2 separate regions of the Homo sapiens genome follow, and region 1 is linked to region 2. Evidence: fine-mapped expression QTL. Tissue or cell type: spinal cord. Region 2 holds a variant in brackets; the other region holds the start of a gene. All regions are shown on one strand. Distances are from middle to middle.

Region 1 (8,182 bases), 38 kb before region 2:
GAGCAATGAAATGTTTTAGAATTAAGATATGCACATTGTTCTCTTAGACATAATGCTATTGCACCCTTAATAGACAATAGTGGAGTGTAAACATCCCTTTTATATGCACTGGGAAAGCACAAATCCATGCAACTCACTTTATTGCAGAGGTGTGGAACCGAGCCTGCGGTATCTCCAAGGTGTGCCTGTATTAGTTCCCTGGGCCCGCTATGATGAAGTATCACAAACAACACACATGTATTGTCCCATGGTTCTGGAGTCCAGCAGTTTTAAATGCAGTGTGTGGCAGGGCTGCACGTCCTCGGAATGTTCTGGCAGAGGCCCCTTCCCTGTCTCCCACAGTTCTGGTGTTTCTGGCAGCCCTTGGTGACCTTGGCTAGTGGTTGCATCACTGTGGTCTCTGCCTCTTTCATCAAGCGGAGCTCGCCCTGTGTCTCCGTCTTCATATTCTTTATTCTTATTAGAACACTAGCCATTAGATTTGGAGCCTGTCCTACATCAGTTCGACGACATCTACACTTGATTTCATCCACAAGCACTGTGGTATTTCCAGTAAGCTCATTCACAGGTTTGGGGTGGATGTGAACTTGGGGGGACATGATTCCACCTGCTGCGTGTCTGTCCCTCATCCTCCCGCGCACACATGTGATGATGCTTCCCTCAGCATCGCTGGCTTTCCTGACGAAGCCTCTGACTGCTTTTTGTTTCATCCTCACATCTCCCTTCCTCCTCACCCCCAGGGGGCCCAGGGAAGATGCTGACCAGGGGCTGTCCCCTCTACTCCCCCTCTGGTCCCCTGCACAGTGGGCCCATGAAGTCCCGCCTCACCCTGCCAGGAAACTCTCTGTGACTTCCATCGTCTATGAAGCCCATTCCATGCACCTGGCCTGGGTGCCGCACCAGGAGCCTGCTGTTCTTTGCACCATGAACACCTACCCACTCTCTCTGCCTGAAATACTTTCTCAACTGGGGACACCCCATTCACGGGCCATGTTCCAATCGGCTTACCTTCTGTCTCCTCTAAACAGACTTCCCTGATTCTGGGCTGCCAGATTTTACAGAAGGAGGCCCATCTTCTCTGTACCTGCCCATCGGCACGTGGAGTCATGAATACATACCTTCCTGCTCCCCAGTGAGTGTCACGGTCTTCACCGCATGCTCCTGAAGTGCTGAGCAGCTGAGCTGCCTGTCTTCAGCTTTAATCAGGAAACACGCATTCTGTGGACTGAGGAACAGGAGAGGCCGTGGCACGCAGAGTAGGGGATGCCGCCCTCCATGTTCTGGCCCCAGGAAAAACTAACCTGGAGGCAGAAAAACTCAAACTGATGAATGGATAATTATCCACTGAAAATTCTTTAAGGGGAACTGGTTTATACTTTTTTTGAATTTGAGATAACATCAATCTATTTAAACTACTTTTTAATTCAAATGATGACTTTGTCCCTAATAGCTTAAAAAGCAAAATAACGTACCTTAAACATGACACATACACTCTTGGAGGCTTTTGTCTGTGCATGTGTCGGAAACTGATGTTTGCCAAGTGATAAATAAACAGGTGCCATTAGGAAAAACAGAGGTTTTCACAAATGAAAGCTCCTTCCCTCTCCCACACCCGCTCGCATATCCTCCCTGAAGACAGAGGCCAGAAAGTGAGGCTTGCTCTTCATGGTGCCTGCCGACCTCTGCAGCGCTGGACCCCTGTGGGGGAATGCCAGGAGGCTTAAGAGACACTCCCCTGCCACAGACACAGTAAGGGTTGTGTCCACAGAAATTCGCTTTAATGTTCTCTAACTAGGACTTGACGGATCCATGGCCAGGCTGACAACTCCACACAAACGTGAAGGAACCTGACAGGCAGGTGCCGACATGAAGCAGGTGCAGGTGGCTCCGGGCAAAGCAGCAGCTCCCCAGTCACCATCCACCCCACCTGGGGAAGTAGCACCTCCCCCATCCAAGGTCCACCCCAACCCAGGAGAAGCAGCAGCTCCCCTGTCTGCCATTAACCCTGACCTGGGAGAAACAACACATCCCCAGCCACCTTGCACACTGACCTGGGAGAAACAGCCTCTCCACCATCCACCTTTCACACTGGCCTGGGAGAAGTGGCACCTCCCCCATCCACTGTCCAGCCCAACTTGGGAGAAGCAGCCCCTCCCCCATGTACCATCAACCCCCACCTTAGAGCAGCAGCTTCCCCTTTCCACTGTATACCCTGACCTGGGAGAAGCAGCCCCTCCGCATCCATCGTCCACCCTGACCTCTGAGAAGCGGTGCCCCCCACCCCCATGCAGAGTGCACCCTGATTGCGGGTGATGCCTGAGGTGTGGGAGGGGCGGGGGTTAGCTGCTGCCACTGCTTCTCGTTCTCTCGAGTCCTTGCTCTGTGCCTGCACGTCAGGTTGTTCCTGTGATGGGGCCACGTGCAAGTGTGCACCAAGGGGACTTGGCCGGGTACTGTACGTCCACTGGGACACACCCTTCTACGGGTATTGCACGTCCACTGGGAGACGTCCTTCTAGGGGATCCTCACTGAGCAAATGAAGCAGAATTTGGGTAAAAATGAATTTTCCCAAAGCTGCAGTACAGCTTTTCAGTCCTCTAACTGCCTGAGATAAATGTTGGCAACTTCCTTTTATATTAAATTTCATTTTTGTCACATAATACACTTGATTATTGACCATAATAACTTTATTAATATACAGACTGATTATTGATACTCACCGATGTATTTCATGTGTTATTGAGAGTCACTCATTTGGTTTAGAAAGACCAATATCACATTGAGTAATTCGAAACATATTTAAGGCATAGAACTTGCATTTTTTTCTCTTAAGCAAAATGAGGAGTTCTAGCCAATCTTGCTAGTGTTATTTATAGCATCTTATTTCCTGAGAGAAGACAGGAAAAGTGAGTCCCTGCCTTCCCTCTCTCCGTCTGGCTCCTCCCAGGCCTGTCTGGCAGGGGCCGGGGTGCAGGAGGAGGAGACGGCATCCAGTACAGAGGGGCTGGACTTGGACCCCTGCAGCAGGTACTCGGAGCAAATGGTGAGATCAGAAGGGGGATGATGTCATTCCTTCGAAGGAATGAATTAAACGTGCTTCCTCGTGTGTCTGATTGACAGCCCTGCACAGGAGAAGCGGCATATAAAGCCGCGCTGCCCGGGAGCCGCTCGGCCACGTCCACCGGAGCATCCTGCACTGCAGGGCCGGTCTCTCGCTCCAGCAGAGCCTGCGCCTTTCTGACTCGGTCCGGAACACTGAAACCAGTCATCACTGCATCTTTTTGGCAAACCAGGTACGATTATTTCTTAAACTCAATCAATTATTTAATGGTGCTCTAATTTTAAGAAATTAGAGTTCTCGAACTCTAAGAAGCGGAGAAGAAAAAGGAGCAATTTCGATTCTTAACTTAAGGTGGGTGGTGTATCTATTAACACTAAATGGCAAGTGTTTCTTCACGTGGTGTTTCTACTGCCCGCTTGAAGAGCAAGGCACGTGGCCGCTCCTCAGCTTTTCCTCCGTGGCTGTGCTTTCACCAGCCGGGCACCCCTTCCTCTCTGAGGGTTGTGGCTGCTGCTATTTCAATGTATATACCTGCCTGGGAACCCGGGTAAACGCTTTATGTTTTCAGTTTCCGAAGAAGAAGATTCCACATGAGAGTTTGTTATTGAGGAGAGAATTAGAAACAACTCCCGGAATATCTGAAAAGTAACTGGAGATTAGAGAGAGACTCTGATTGTTAACATCATTATTAGTAGATTAGAGAGAGACTCTGATCGTTAACATTATTAGTAGATTAAAGAGAGACTCTGATTGTTAACATTATTAGTAGATTAAAGAGAGACTCTGATTGTTAACATTATTAGCAGCTGAAAAGTGGTTTTGAACATAACTAGAGAGTATTTGTGGTAAGTCTATGGAAAATCCTGTGACTGCCGGGACACACAGCGACTTTTAACAGTCTTGGGGCAGTTTGCATATGAAAAGCGAGCTGGCAGGTTGCCTGGCTACCACTTAAGGAAGGTGGGTTTGGCTGCCCAGGACTGGGAGCTGAGCACCCAGGAGTCTGGTGTTTAATCAGACTGCTGTTGGTGGTGGACGGCCGGTAAACAATTAGCTCTCTGCAAAGCTATCTTTTACTTTGATTGTTCATACGAAAAGAGTTTTAAAAGACCTTTGCAAATTCAAACTACATTCTGCTGCAGACAGGCACCGAAATCTTTCTTTTGGAAAAACACAAGCATAAACGTGGATGTGTGGCGTGCAGAGGCTGGGGCAGGGGTGAGCGGCACTGGCTCATCCGTGGCTCCATCCATGCATGCCCGGTGTCCCTGGATGGGCTGAGGCCAGGTAGCCTGGCTGCTCATCCTTCCTGTGGGATGGAGCCTCACTGTCCTTTGACAATCCGCAGCAGGGGATGCTTTGTTAGCCTCCTGCTCTTGTAAGAATCTACCTCAAGGCAGAGACAGTAGGATCTGGTTTCGTCAAAGGAGTTTGATTTAGTTTTTCTAACCTGTCCTTATGAAGCTGGGCATCCAGAACTTTCGCATTTACCATCCTGTTCTTGGCTGGCCTCTGCAGGGCCAGCCCCACACAGCTGTCCTTAGGGGACTGCGACGTACCCGGCAGTGTGGGCTGATGAGGTGGGGAGGTGGGAAGAGCCTGCCAAGGCTGTACCTGAGCTGTGTATTCTAACACCGTTCTGTGGTGCTTACTGCATGCAGGTACTGTTCTAAGCTCATGGCCAAGTGTTCGCTCCTGTCATTAAACCCTCTTAAGAGCTCCATAGAAAGGCCCTATCAGCACCACCATTATTACTGCAGCTGCCTCGGGCAGTTAGAGTAGAAAGCGCCCCAGACCCAGAGGCACATTCTGCTCCGGTAACCCATGCCTGTGGCTCGCTGGGCTAAGTCAGCCCCTGGTGAAGTTTCATTTGCCGAATTCATCTCTCATGACAACCCGATGAGGTGGGCATTTTACATGACGCTACGTTTCATTCTACGGATGAGGAAACTGAGACAGAGAAGTTAAGTAAGTTTCCCTAGGTTGCACAGCTGGTGCTCAGCATTGCTCAGCCTGGTGCTGACTCCGGCCGCAGGCCGTGCTGCTTCCGGAGCCAGGACAGATGAAACAATCACCAAGGACCCCTGGGGCGGCACTGGGGGGAGCAGATGGTTTGGGGGGGGGGTCCCAGCAGCAGATGGGTGGGGGGTCTGCAGGTGCTGCCAAGCATTTCTCTTCTTCTGAGGAATGTTTCTCTATTCCTGGAAGGTGAGGATTTCCAGGTTACCAAATGTTGTTTCTGGAGAGGGAGAGTCCTTGGATTAACAATGAGAAGTTAACGGCCTTTGATATTCTAAATATGGGAAGAATTGGGGTCTCAGTCTTCCCTTCAACCTAGAGCAGGGTGTGACCAATTGCTGGAAGGGACCTGGGGAGCCCTGGGACCCTCAGGCTCATGCTCGCCCGGAAGAGGAGAAGCTGAGATCCACAGGGTTAATCGCCCAGCCGGGCTTTGGACCACATCTCCTGACTTCGGGGCCAGCCTCCACTGAGCTGTGCCAACTTAAAATCCCCAAGAATGGAAAAACAGGCCTGCAGGAAAATAAAGAGGCAGGGTCAAAATGATGGCTAAGTCAAGTGTTCTGTTGTTTTGTAAGTATAATTCACCAAATTAAGTTTATTTGTAACTTTTTTTTACAGTTGATATTCATTCTATTTAATTAGGTTATGCATAACTGTTTTTTGCTGGATATTTACACAAAATGCGTTCACAGATTATTTTTGTCAGGCTGGATATTTTTCTAAATTCAAACTTTCTACATCTAAGTCCTGTCTACGAGTCGTATGAACAGAATTACTCCAGGCAAGCGCTGAACTTGCCCATCTTCCATTTGCTCATCTGTAAAATGAGGACAATTAGAGCAGCACATACCTCCCAGGCTATTATGAAGATGAAATAATAGGAATATTTAGAACGTGATGTGCAGTGCTTGCCGGCAAATGCTAGCTCAACAAATCTTATAGTTAGAAGAATCCTGCTTGAAGAGTAAATTTCCTCCTTCGCTCTCAGTTTGCCACAAATCCAGTTGGTGCTGAGTTTTATATGCAAACTGTTATTCAATGGTCATGTGAGTCACTGGGCCAGTCTCGCTCACAGGCAGGGTTGCAGCTGTGGACTCATCACTAACAAGGGTTTCCTGTATTCCCAGGAGCTCAGCTGCAGGAGGCAGGATGGTCTGGAGGCTGGTCCTGCTGGCTCTGTGGGTGTGGCCCAGCACGCAAGGTGAGTGTCCTCAGAGCCTGTGGTCTCTCTCTGGCTTGTGAGATATGGCTTAGCTGCAAGGGGAGAGATGACAAAATAAAGTGTGTGGTTGGACAATCTTACCCGTGAGGACCTTCTAGCTCCTTTATAAATCAAATAGTAACTTACTTCTGAGCCAATATGACATGAGATAATTTATCTTTGGAAAATTCAGGTGTTAGAGAAAAATGCAATTCCACCTAGAGTTGCACAGTTTATCCTTTTTTCTATAGAGGATGTTCACAACACTGCAAGTATTTGGTGTTTGTTGAATTCTTTTTGCTCCACTTTCTTCCTCCTTTAAATATTTTCCCATGTGTTTACTTTTCTACAGTATGATTTTTAATGACCACATAATATTTCATCACAGATAAAGCCTGATCTTTTTCAATCAATTCCCACTTAGATTGGTTTATTTTCATTAGCATAAATGATGACACAAAAAATATTGACGTGGATAAATCTTAAGTAGCATTTGTGATTATATCCTTTGGATAGGTTACAAAATTAGAATTGCTGAATCAAAGCTTTTAATTCTTGCCAAGTAACTCTATGGAAAGTGGTCCATTGCCCACTTCTGTCAGCAACCCTGTGTATTATCCTGTTCTAATTTGCTAAATATTAGATGAAAAGGAAGGCTTTGGCTAAACTTTCTGTTCAGTGTATTACTTTTTTTTTTTTTTCTGGGACGGAGTCCTGCTCTGTCACCCAGGCTGGAGTGCAGTGGCGTGATCTGGGCTCACTGCAAGCTCTGCCTCCCGGGTTCACGCCATTCTCCTGCCTCAGCCTCCCGAGTAGCTGGGACTACAAGCGCCCACAACCATGCCTGGCTAATTTTTTGTATTTTTAGTAGAGACGGGGTTTCACCACGTTAGCCATGATGGTCTCCGTCTCCTGACCTCATGATCCACCCACCTCGGCCTCCCAAAGTGCTGGGATTACAGGTGTGAGCCACCGCGCCTGGCTTTGAATTATTTAAACTATTATGATTTTCGTGAGATCTGATCACTTTTCTTGCCAATAGCTTAGGTGGTGACTTAAAACCATTTGTTTCTGTACTTGATACTGACCACTCTTTCAGATCCTTACCCACAGGGTGCATTAAGAGTTGGAGAATACATTTTTACAAAATAACAACCTGCTGACATAACTGGTTTTAGGCAGTTGATCTCAACAAGAAAGCAACATACGATTTAGCCGCTTTCTGACACTCTATCAATAGCAAGGCTAAAGATCCATGTCTTTCCCAGTTTATTCATTTATTTGGTTTTTTCCTGAGCAATCAACTGGTAGACAGGATGGCTGCTTTTCAGCCTCAGATCTGAGATGGAAGAGCCAGACAGAGTGACCTGGGACATGTGCCAGGATGTCAAGCGAGGCCGGGATTCCCTCACCAAGAAGGTCGGGCTATGCAAAGGGCCAGCTGAACGGACAGGGCGCTGCCTGTCTCCACCGATTTACCTTCTGGCACACGCTCCTCGACCAGCCAGGGGCAGAAACTGACCCCACAGACCCGCAGCTGCGTTGGGCCCACACTCTGAGTAGCGGCACTGGCACGGAGGATAGTGGCTTTTCATCAGAGGTGGCTCCAGGATTCCCATAAAAAAGGGAGAGAAGCTGCGGGATATTGGGAGGCCTCGTTAATTTCCTTACACGCGAGGTTCTGGTTTGTCACCCTGGGTCAGGCCAACCTCGCCCTCTTCCCCTACGTCACCCTTCTCCACTGCGGTTCCCTTTGCAGCTGGTCACCAGGACAAAGACACGACCTTCGACCTTTTCAGTATCAGCAACATCAACCGCAAGACCATTGGCGCCAAGCAGTTCCGCGGGCCCGACCCCGGCGTGCCGGCTTACCGCTTCGTGCGCTTTGACTACATCCC
Region 2 (8,182 bases):
CCTATCAATACATCCATCTCATCCATCCATCCATCCATCTCATCCACCCACCTACTCATCCATCCATCCACTCATCTCATCCACCCACCTACTCATCCATCCATCCACTCATCCACCCACCTACTCATCCATCCATCCACTCATCTCATCCACCCACCTACTCATCCATCCATCCACTCATCTCATCCACTTACCCACCCACTCATCATCCATCCATCCACCCAGCACTTATCCATCCATCTTATCCATCCATCCATCCATCTCAGCCACCCACCCATGCACTCATCCATCTCATCCACCAACCCACTCATCCCTCCATCCACCCACCCACCCATCCATCCATCTCATCCACCCACCTATCTCATCCATCCATCCACCTGTCTCATCCATCCATCCATCCCATCCATCCATCTACTCATCCGCCCATCCATCTCATCCATTCACCCAACCATCCATCTCATCCATCCATCCATTCATCCATCCACCCACCCACACACCCACCCATCTCATCCATCCATCCACCCAGCCCCATCCACCTATCCATCTAGTCCATCCACCCACCCACCCATCCATCTCATCCATCCATCCATCCACCCATCCATTTCATCCACCCCCACTCATCTATCCCATCCATCCATCTCAGCCACCCACCCACCCACTCATCCATCTCATCCATCCACCCACCCATCCATCTCCACCAACCCACCTATCTCATTCATCCATCCATCCATCAATTCATCTCATCCACCCATTCATCTCATCTACCAACCCACTCATCCATCCATCCACCCACCCATTTCATCCATCCACCAATCCATTTCATCCATCCATCCACCCATCCATCCATCTCATCCAGCCACCCAACCATCTCATCATCCATCCACCCATTCATCTCATCCACCAACCCACTCATCCATCCATCCACCCACTCATTTCATCCATCCATCCATCCATCTCATCCACCCACCCACCCCATCCATCCACCCATCCATCCACCCACCCATTTCATCCACCCACCCATCCATTTCATCCATCCATCCATCCATCCATCTCATCCACCCACCCACCGACCCATCTCATCCATCCACCCACCCATCTCATCCATCCACCCATCCATTTCATCCATCCATCCATCCATCCATATGATAGATCTCATCTTTAATTAAAGTAATTATATTTCTGGTTCTAGGTAAAACAAAATAAATCACTACCCATGGCCCAGTTATGCTAATTGTTTATTGCTTTTTTTTTTCTTTTTGTAGATATTTAAACAAGATTTGCTGCATTTCCGGCAATGCCCTGTGCATGCCATGGTCCCTAGACACCTCAGTTCATTGTGGTCCTTGTGGCTTCTCTCTCTAGCAGCACCTCCTGTCCCTTGACCTTAACTCTGATGGTTCTTCACCTCCTGCCAGCAACCCCAAACCCAAGTGCCTTCAGAGGATAAATATCAATGGAACTCAGAGATGAACATCTAACCCACTAGAGGAAACCAGTTTGGTGATATATGAGACTTTATGTGGAGTGAAAATTGGGCATGCCATTACATTGCTTTTTCTTGTTTGTTTAAAAAGAATGACGTTTACATATAAAATGTAATTACTTATTGTATTTATGTGTATATGGAGTTGAAGGGAATACTGTGCATAAGCCATTATGATAAATTAAGCATGAAAAATATTGCTGAACTACTTTTGGTGCTTAAAGTTGTCACTATTCTTGAATTAGAGTTGCTCTACAATGACACACAAATCCCATTAAATAAATTATAAACAAGGGTCAATTCAAATTTGAAGTAATGTTTTAGTAAGGAGAGATTAGAAGACAACAGGCATAGCAAATGACATAAGCTACCGATTAACTAATCGGAACATGTAAAACAGTTACAAAAATAAACGAACTCTCCTCTTGTCCTACAATGAAAGCCCTCATGTGCAGTAGAGATGCAGTTTCATCAAAGAACAAACATCCTTGCAAATGGGTGTGACGCGGTTCCAGATGTGGATTTGGCAAAACCTCATTTAAGTAAAAGGTTAGCAGAGCAAAGTGCGGTGCTTTAGCTGCTGCTTGTGCCGCTGTGGCGTCGGGGAGGCTCCTGCCTGAGCTTCCTTCCCCAGCTTTGCTGCCTGAGAGGAACCAGAGCAGACGCACAGGCCGGAAAAGGCGCATCTAACGCGTATCTAGGCTTTGGTAACTGCGGACAAGTTGCTTTTACCTGATTTGATGATACATTTCATTAAGGTTCCAGTTATAAATATTTTGTTAATATTTATTAAGTGACTATAGAATGCAACTCCATTTACCAGTAACTTATTTTAAATATGCCTAGTAACACATATGTAGTATAATTTCTAGAAACAAACATCTAATAAGTATATAATCCTGTGAAAATATGAGGCTTGATAATATTAGGTTGTCACGATGAAGCATGCTAGAAGCTGTAACAGAATACATAGAGAATAATGAGGAGTTTATGATGGAACCTTAAATATATAATGTTGCCAGCGATTTTAGTTCAATATTTGTTACTGTTATCTATCTGCTGTATATGGAATTCTTTTAATTCAAACGCTGAAAAGAATCAGCATTTAGTCTTGCCAGGCACACCCAATAATCAGTCATGTGTAATATGCACAAGTTTGTTTTTGTTTTTGTTTTTTTTGTTGGTTGGTTTGTTTTTTTGCTTTAAGTTGCATGATCTTTCTGCAGGAAATAGTCACTCATCCCACTCCACATAAGGGGTTTAGTAAGAGAAGTCTGTCTGTCTGATGATGGATAGGGGGCAAATCTTTTTCCCCTTTCTGTTAATAGTCATCACATTTCTATGCCAAACAGGAACAATCCATAACTTTAGTCTTAATGTACACATTGCATTTTGATAAAATTAATTTTGTTGTTTCCTTTGAGGTTGATCGTTGTGTTGTTGTTTTGCTGCACTTTTTACTTTTTTGCGTGTGGAGCTGTATTCCCGAGACCAACGAAGCGTTGGGATACTTCATTAAATGTAGCGACTGTCAACAGCGTGCAGGTTTTCTGTTTCTGTGTTGTGGGGTCAACCGTACAATGGTGTGGGAGTGACGATGATGTGAGTATTTAGAATGTACCATATTTTTTGTAAATTATTTATGTTTTTCTAAACAAATTTATCGTATAGGTTGATGAAACGTCATGTGTTTTGCCAAAGACTGTAAATATTTATTTATGTGTTCACATGGTCAAAATTTCACCACTGAAACCCTGCACTTAGCTAGAACCTCATTTTTAAAGATTAACAACAGGAAATAAATTGTAAAAAAGGTTTTCTATACATGATCTCTCTCCCTTTTTTAAAAAGAACTAGCAGGGTTTCTACCGGGGTGGGGGAAAGGGGTAGAAGGAATTGGCATTTTGCTTCCTGTCATGTAAGTAGGCCTGTGGTGTGATCACGGGCTATCTCCTCGCAAGTCACAGGTTAAAATGCAGGCTGAAGGGCCTGGTGGAGAAGGAAGCCCTGCTTGACACAGGTCTCTGTTCTGCTGAGCCTCCCAGCACGGTGTGGGATACAACCATTTAGCAATTCATCTCTCCTGCCTCTGCTCATTGTCAAACGAGGGAACAGAACTTCGTAGGGAATTTGGCAAACATGATTGAAATGATTCCGAAAAAGGCAACAGCACACGGGACCCTCTCCCTAATACGAGCTGTTCTTCCCTCTTGACTCATTCTTCTGAGTCAGGTGGAGGGAAGTAGCGGACCCCAGAGGAAGGGCCCATTTCCAACCACAGCACTGCCTAAAAATGGGCCGATCGGGCTCACCAGTTGGAGGAGGCAATGGCAGCAGCACAGAACGCTGGGGTTTCTTTAGCAGCTCCAGCTGCTCTTGTTGGGATTTCTGAATATTATGCAGGCAGACACAGAGAAGAAAAACAGGGAGAGAGGGAGAGAGGGCATCCAGAGAGAAAGGGGAAGAGAGGGAGGGAGAGAGGGAGAGAGGGCATCCAGAGAGAAAGGGGAAGAGAGGGAGGGAGAGAGGGAGAGAGGGCATCCAGAGAGAAAGGGGAAGAGAGGGAGGGATGGGGGAGAGAGAAAGAGACAAAGAGACAGAGGGAAAGAGGGGGAGTTGGGGGAGGGAGGAAAAGAGAGCAAGATGAATAAAAACAAGTATACTTGGCTGAAACACGCTGGAGTGAGTCAGACAGTGAAGCAATAAGATATAGGAAAGGCCGTCTGAGGCAACGGGCTGTGAACTGAAGGCCCTGGCTTTGAGTTGTGAAATGAGTGAGTTTTAGTTCATCAATATGGAGGAAAAAGCTAGACCTACATGTGTAAAAAGAAAAGTTTAGAAACAAAATAATGATGGCAGTGATAGTGGCTGGTCTATGGACAGCTACTGGAGGAAGCTCAATGTACATTTTACTCATGAAACAAAAAATACATATAATATGTTGAATAAGGATGCTTAGAAGTCAGGCATTAAAATGAGATACATTTCTC[C/G]TGCATTCAGGTTTTGCTGTCATTTATCGAAAAGTTGAGGTTTCCTGACAATCATGTTCCCTGTCGATGGCCTTAGCCACATCAGAATGGTTGTCTCCCAGGATTAATGTGTGGTGCCTTTGTGAGCTCACCTGGGAGGAAGGTGTCCCTGGACCTCGATGACTCCGTGCGAGCACCTGCCCTGTGGCCCTCCATCTCCCTTCTGCGAATCGCTGCCAGCACACCACGGGAGCTCCGCACCTTCCACCGTGGACCGGGAGGGCCGTCGTTCTAGACGCTGATGCTGCTGCTCACAGGGAAAGGTTCGGCCCAGGCCCACGCTCTGAGAGTTGTCTGTACAAGGCTCAACCAACTCGCCCTCAGGGCAGGCACAGGCCTTGGTCGTGTGGAACGAGTCGGTGGGTGAAATAACACATCTTCACTCCCAAGTATCCAAGCGTGGGATCTGTGATTGCCGGGAGGAGAGAAGCCTTCATACCGTGACCAACTCACTGGCTGCTGCGTGTCCCAGCTATAGGCTACATGGGGGCAGAGGGCTCCTTCCGTCATTCCTGGAGGACCAAAATCTTAGGCCAGCTTTGCTCAGTCTGCGTTTCACAAAGTGATGCTTTTGACCATGGAGCAAGTGGTGCCTAGGCCTTGAGGAACGCAGGTGTGGGGTGATCCAGGAGCTGCCACTCCAGCTCCACGGCCACAGCCCTGTGGGCTGCCAATGCCCAAATGGGAGGGCCCTGCTGAGGGCTATCACCCACACGAGGCCCTTAGCCCAGGGCAGGTACCTGCACTGATGCTTCCCACCCTCTTAGTAAAGTCCTTCTGGAGCCACCAGCCTGGGGGCCCAGGGGAGGGGCTGAAGCAAGCTGGGACACTCCTGCTTCGCCCGGGTGTCAGCCCTGTGCCCAGGGGAGTGAGCTGCGGGCCCAGAGCAGCTTGCGGCCCACGCAGCCGGCGTTAGCCTTGGGGACCACGTGGGCATTTGTGAGAGAGGTCCGGGCCCGTGCCCCCCACCCCGTGCAGTCCCACAGGGGCCCCTGACTCACCCTTCCCCAGCCCTTGCTCAGCGGTCCGGCCCCTCTGGCTCCCCTGAGTCTGCGCTTGGCCCCTTGCGGGTGGGGTGAGCGCGGAGCCTCGGCTGTCCCTGCCTCGTGGCCCACCCAGGGCGCCCGCCGCCCCTGCAGCAGTAGCAGGACCTACTGCCAGCTTCTCAGTTCCTGTCTCGGCCTTTTTCAGGCCGTTGAAGACTTTTGCCACTTTTCTGACTTTTTTTTTTTTTTTTTTTTTACCACATAAGGGCTTTTTCAACCCCAAAGCACATCAAATGCAGGATGGGAAGTGATATTCGACTTTCCGGCCTCCAGCGCACACCCCTGACGCGCGCGGACTGCAGGGCTTGGGTCGGGGCGTCCCTGGGAAGCTCAGCCGGTTCAGCCCCGGCGAGCCCCGCCCGCGCGCGTCCCCGAGAGCCGGAGGCCCCGCCGAGCGCATGCCCAGCCCTCCCTGCGCGCCTGCGCCCTCCCTGCGCCCTCTCCTGGGCCCTGACTGTGCTTGAATGACAGCTTCACTGCAGGGTAACCCGGAACCTTCAAAAGGCCGATTCTGCAAACAAAATGGTGTAGAAAGAGGAAGAAAGCATTAGTGCAACAAAACTCGATTGCGCTTCGTTTTATGTACGATTTATTTACTTTTAAAATATTTTTTCTGTTTTTAGATTTATTTTTCTACTGAAAAATTGTTTAGTTATCTTGAGGTGGGACAGAATTCTTCATACGACTTTTCCCATTTAAAAATGTAATTATTTTTAAATATGGCTTTAGGAATAAATTACAGTTGTTAAAATGGAGATACATATTATTTATATTTATGTATTGATTATTGAATGGTATATACGCAAGCAACATACACGTGACTATACATATGCATCATGAATACACAAACCTCCCTTGTCTCAGGCCATACTTATTCTGGATTTTAAAGAAGTGGAAAAGTTGGCAAAGTGTCAGAGAACAAGATCAACACATGGAAATCAGTTGTGCGTCTGTATACCAGACAGAAACAATTTAAAACGGAAGTTAAAAGTACAATACCATTTGCAATAACATACAAAACAATAAAATACCTCGTAATAAATGTAACTTGGGAGGCAGAAGACTTGTACTATGAAAACAGAAAAACAATGCCAAAATAAATTAAAACCTATATAAATGGAAAGACACCCTCGTGTATAGTTTGGAAGATTTAATTCTAATTCATTATAATATCTGTAGTATTCTTGGGTTATATGTGATATTTTGATATCTGTTTAAAATGTGTAATGATAAAGTTAGGGTAATTGGGATACCCATGACCTCATACATTTTTATTCTCTGTATTGAGAACATTACAATTCTTCTAGCTATTTTGATATGTACAATAAACTATTAAGCATAATTTTCCTACTATACTGCATGTGATAGCTCATTCCTTCTGACTGTATTTTTGTACTCCTTAACCAGCTCCCCTTCATCTTCCTCTCCACCATTCCACCCCAGCATCTGGCATCCGCCATCCTGCTCTCAACATCCACAAGACCCACTGTTTTAGCTCCCACATATGAATGAGAACATGCAATATTTGTCTTTCTGTGTCATGCTTATTTTACATAACAGAATGATCTTCAGATCTATCCATCCTGCTGCAAATGACAGGATTTAATTCCTTTTTATGGCTGACTAGTATTCCATTGTGTGCATATACAATATTTTCTTTGTCCTTTCGCCTATTGATGAACACTTAGGTTGATTCGATGTCTTGGCTATTGTGAGTAGTGTTGTAATAAACATGAGAGGGCCGATGTCTCTTTGATATACTGATTTCCTTTCTGTCAGATGCATACCCAGCAGTAAGATTGCTGGACTATACCAAACGTAGTTCTAGTTTAGTTTTTTGAGGAACCCCCATACTGTTTTCCCTAGTGGGTGTACTACTTTACATCCCTACCAACAGTGTATGAGTGTTCCTTTTTTTCCACCTTCTCATCAGCATTTGCTATTTTTTGTCTTTGTGATAATTCTAAATGGGGTCAGATAATATCTTCTTGTGGTTTTGAATTGCATTTCTATAATGACTAGTGATGTTGAGCCTTTTTTCATGTACGTGTTGGCCATTTCTTTTGAGAAATGTCTATTAGGTCTTTTGCCCAGTTTTTAATTGGGTTGTTTGAGTTTCTTATATATTCTGATTACTAATCCCTTGTTGGATGGGTAGTTTGCAAATATTTTCTCCCATTCTGTGGGTTGTCTCTTCACTTCGTTGATTTTTTCCTTTGCTGTGTAGAAGCTTTCTGGCTTGATATAATACTATTTTTCTATTTTTGTTATAGTTGTCTGTAATGTTGAGGTCTTACCAAAAAATCTTTACCCAGATCAATGTCCTGGAATGTTTCTCCGTATTATTTTTTAGTAGTAGTTCTATCGTTTTGGGTCTTGCATTGAAGTCTTTAATCCATTTTGATTTGATGTATGTATATGGTAAAAGAGGGGGGTCTCGATTCATTTTTTTCTGCATGTCTAACTTTCCTGGCAGTATTTATCAAAGAGACTGTCCATTCCCCAATGTATGTTCTTGATGTCTTTGCCAAAAATGAGTTGGCTGTAAGTACGTGGATTTATTTCTGAATTCATCGTTTTATTCCATTGGTCCACATGTCTGTTTTAGTGTTGGTACTGTGCTG

What was found. PIP is the estimated chance that this variant, and not a neighbour inherited with it, causes the effect.
Region 1: it holds the start of THBS2, and the variant in region 2 is fine-mapped to the expression of THBS2 in spinal cord (GTEx, PIP above 0.99).

Annotation. Positions count from the first base shown.
Region 1 is chr6:169,248,835-169,257,016 of GRCh38, reverse strand. It overlaps THBS2 (thrombospondin 2), which reads left to right and starts at 3,171. Exons shown (of 22, transcript NM_003247.5): 1 at 3,171-3,293; 2 at 6,211-6,284; 3 at 8,044-8,182. The coding sequence starts at 6,233. RefSeq lists enhancers at 3,585-4,096, 4,097-4,609, 5,122-5,635.
Region 2 is chr6:169,210,910-169,219,091 of GRCh38, reverse strand. THBS2 (thrombospondin 2) reads left to right here. Exons shown (of 22, transcript NM_003247.5): 22 at 1,263-3,307. The coding sequence ends at 1,270. It overlaps THBS2-AS1 (THBS2 antisense RNA 1), which reads right to left and starts at 5,880. Exons shown (of 3, transcript NR_134621.1): 1 at 5,514-5,880; 2 at 4,605-4,918. RefSeq lists a silencer at 5,792-6,141. The variant C/G (reference allele first, on the strand shown) is at 4,474.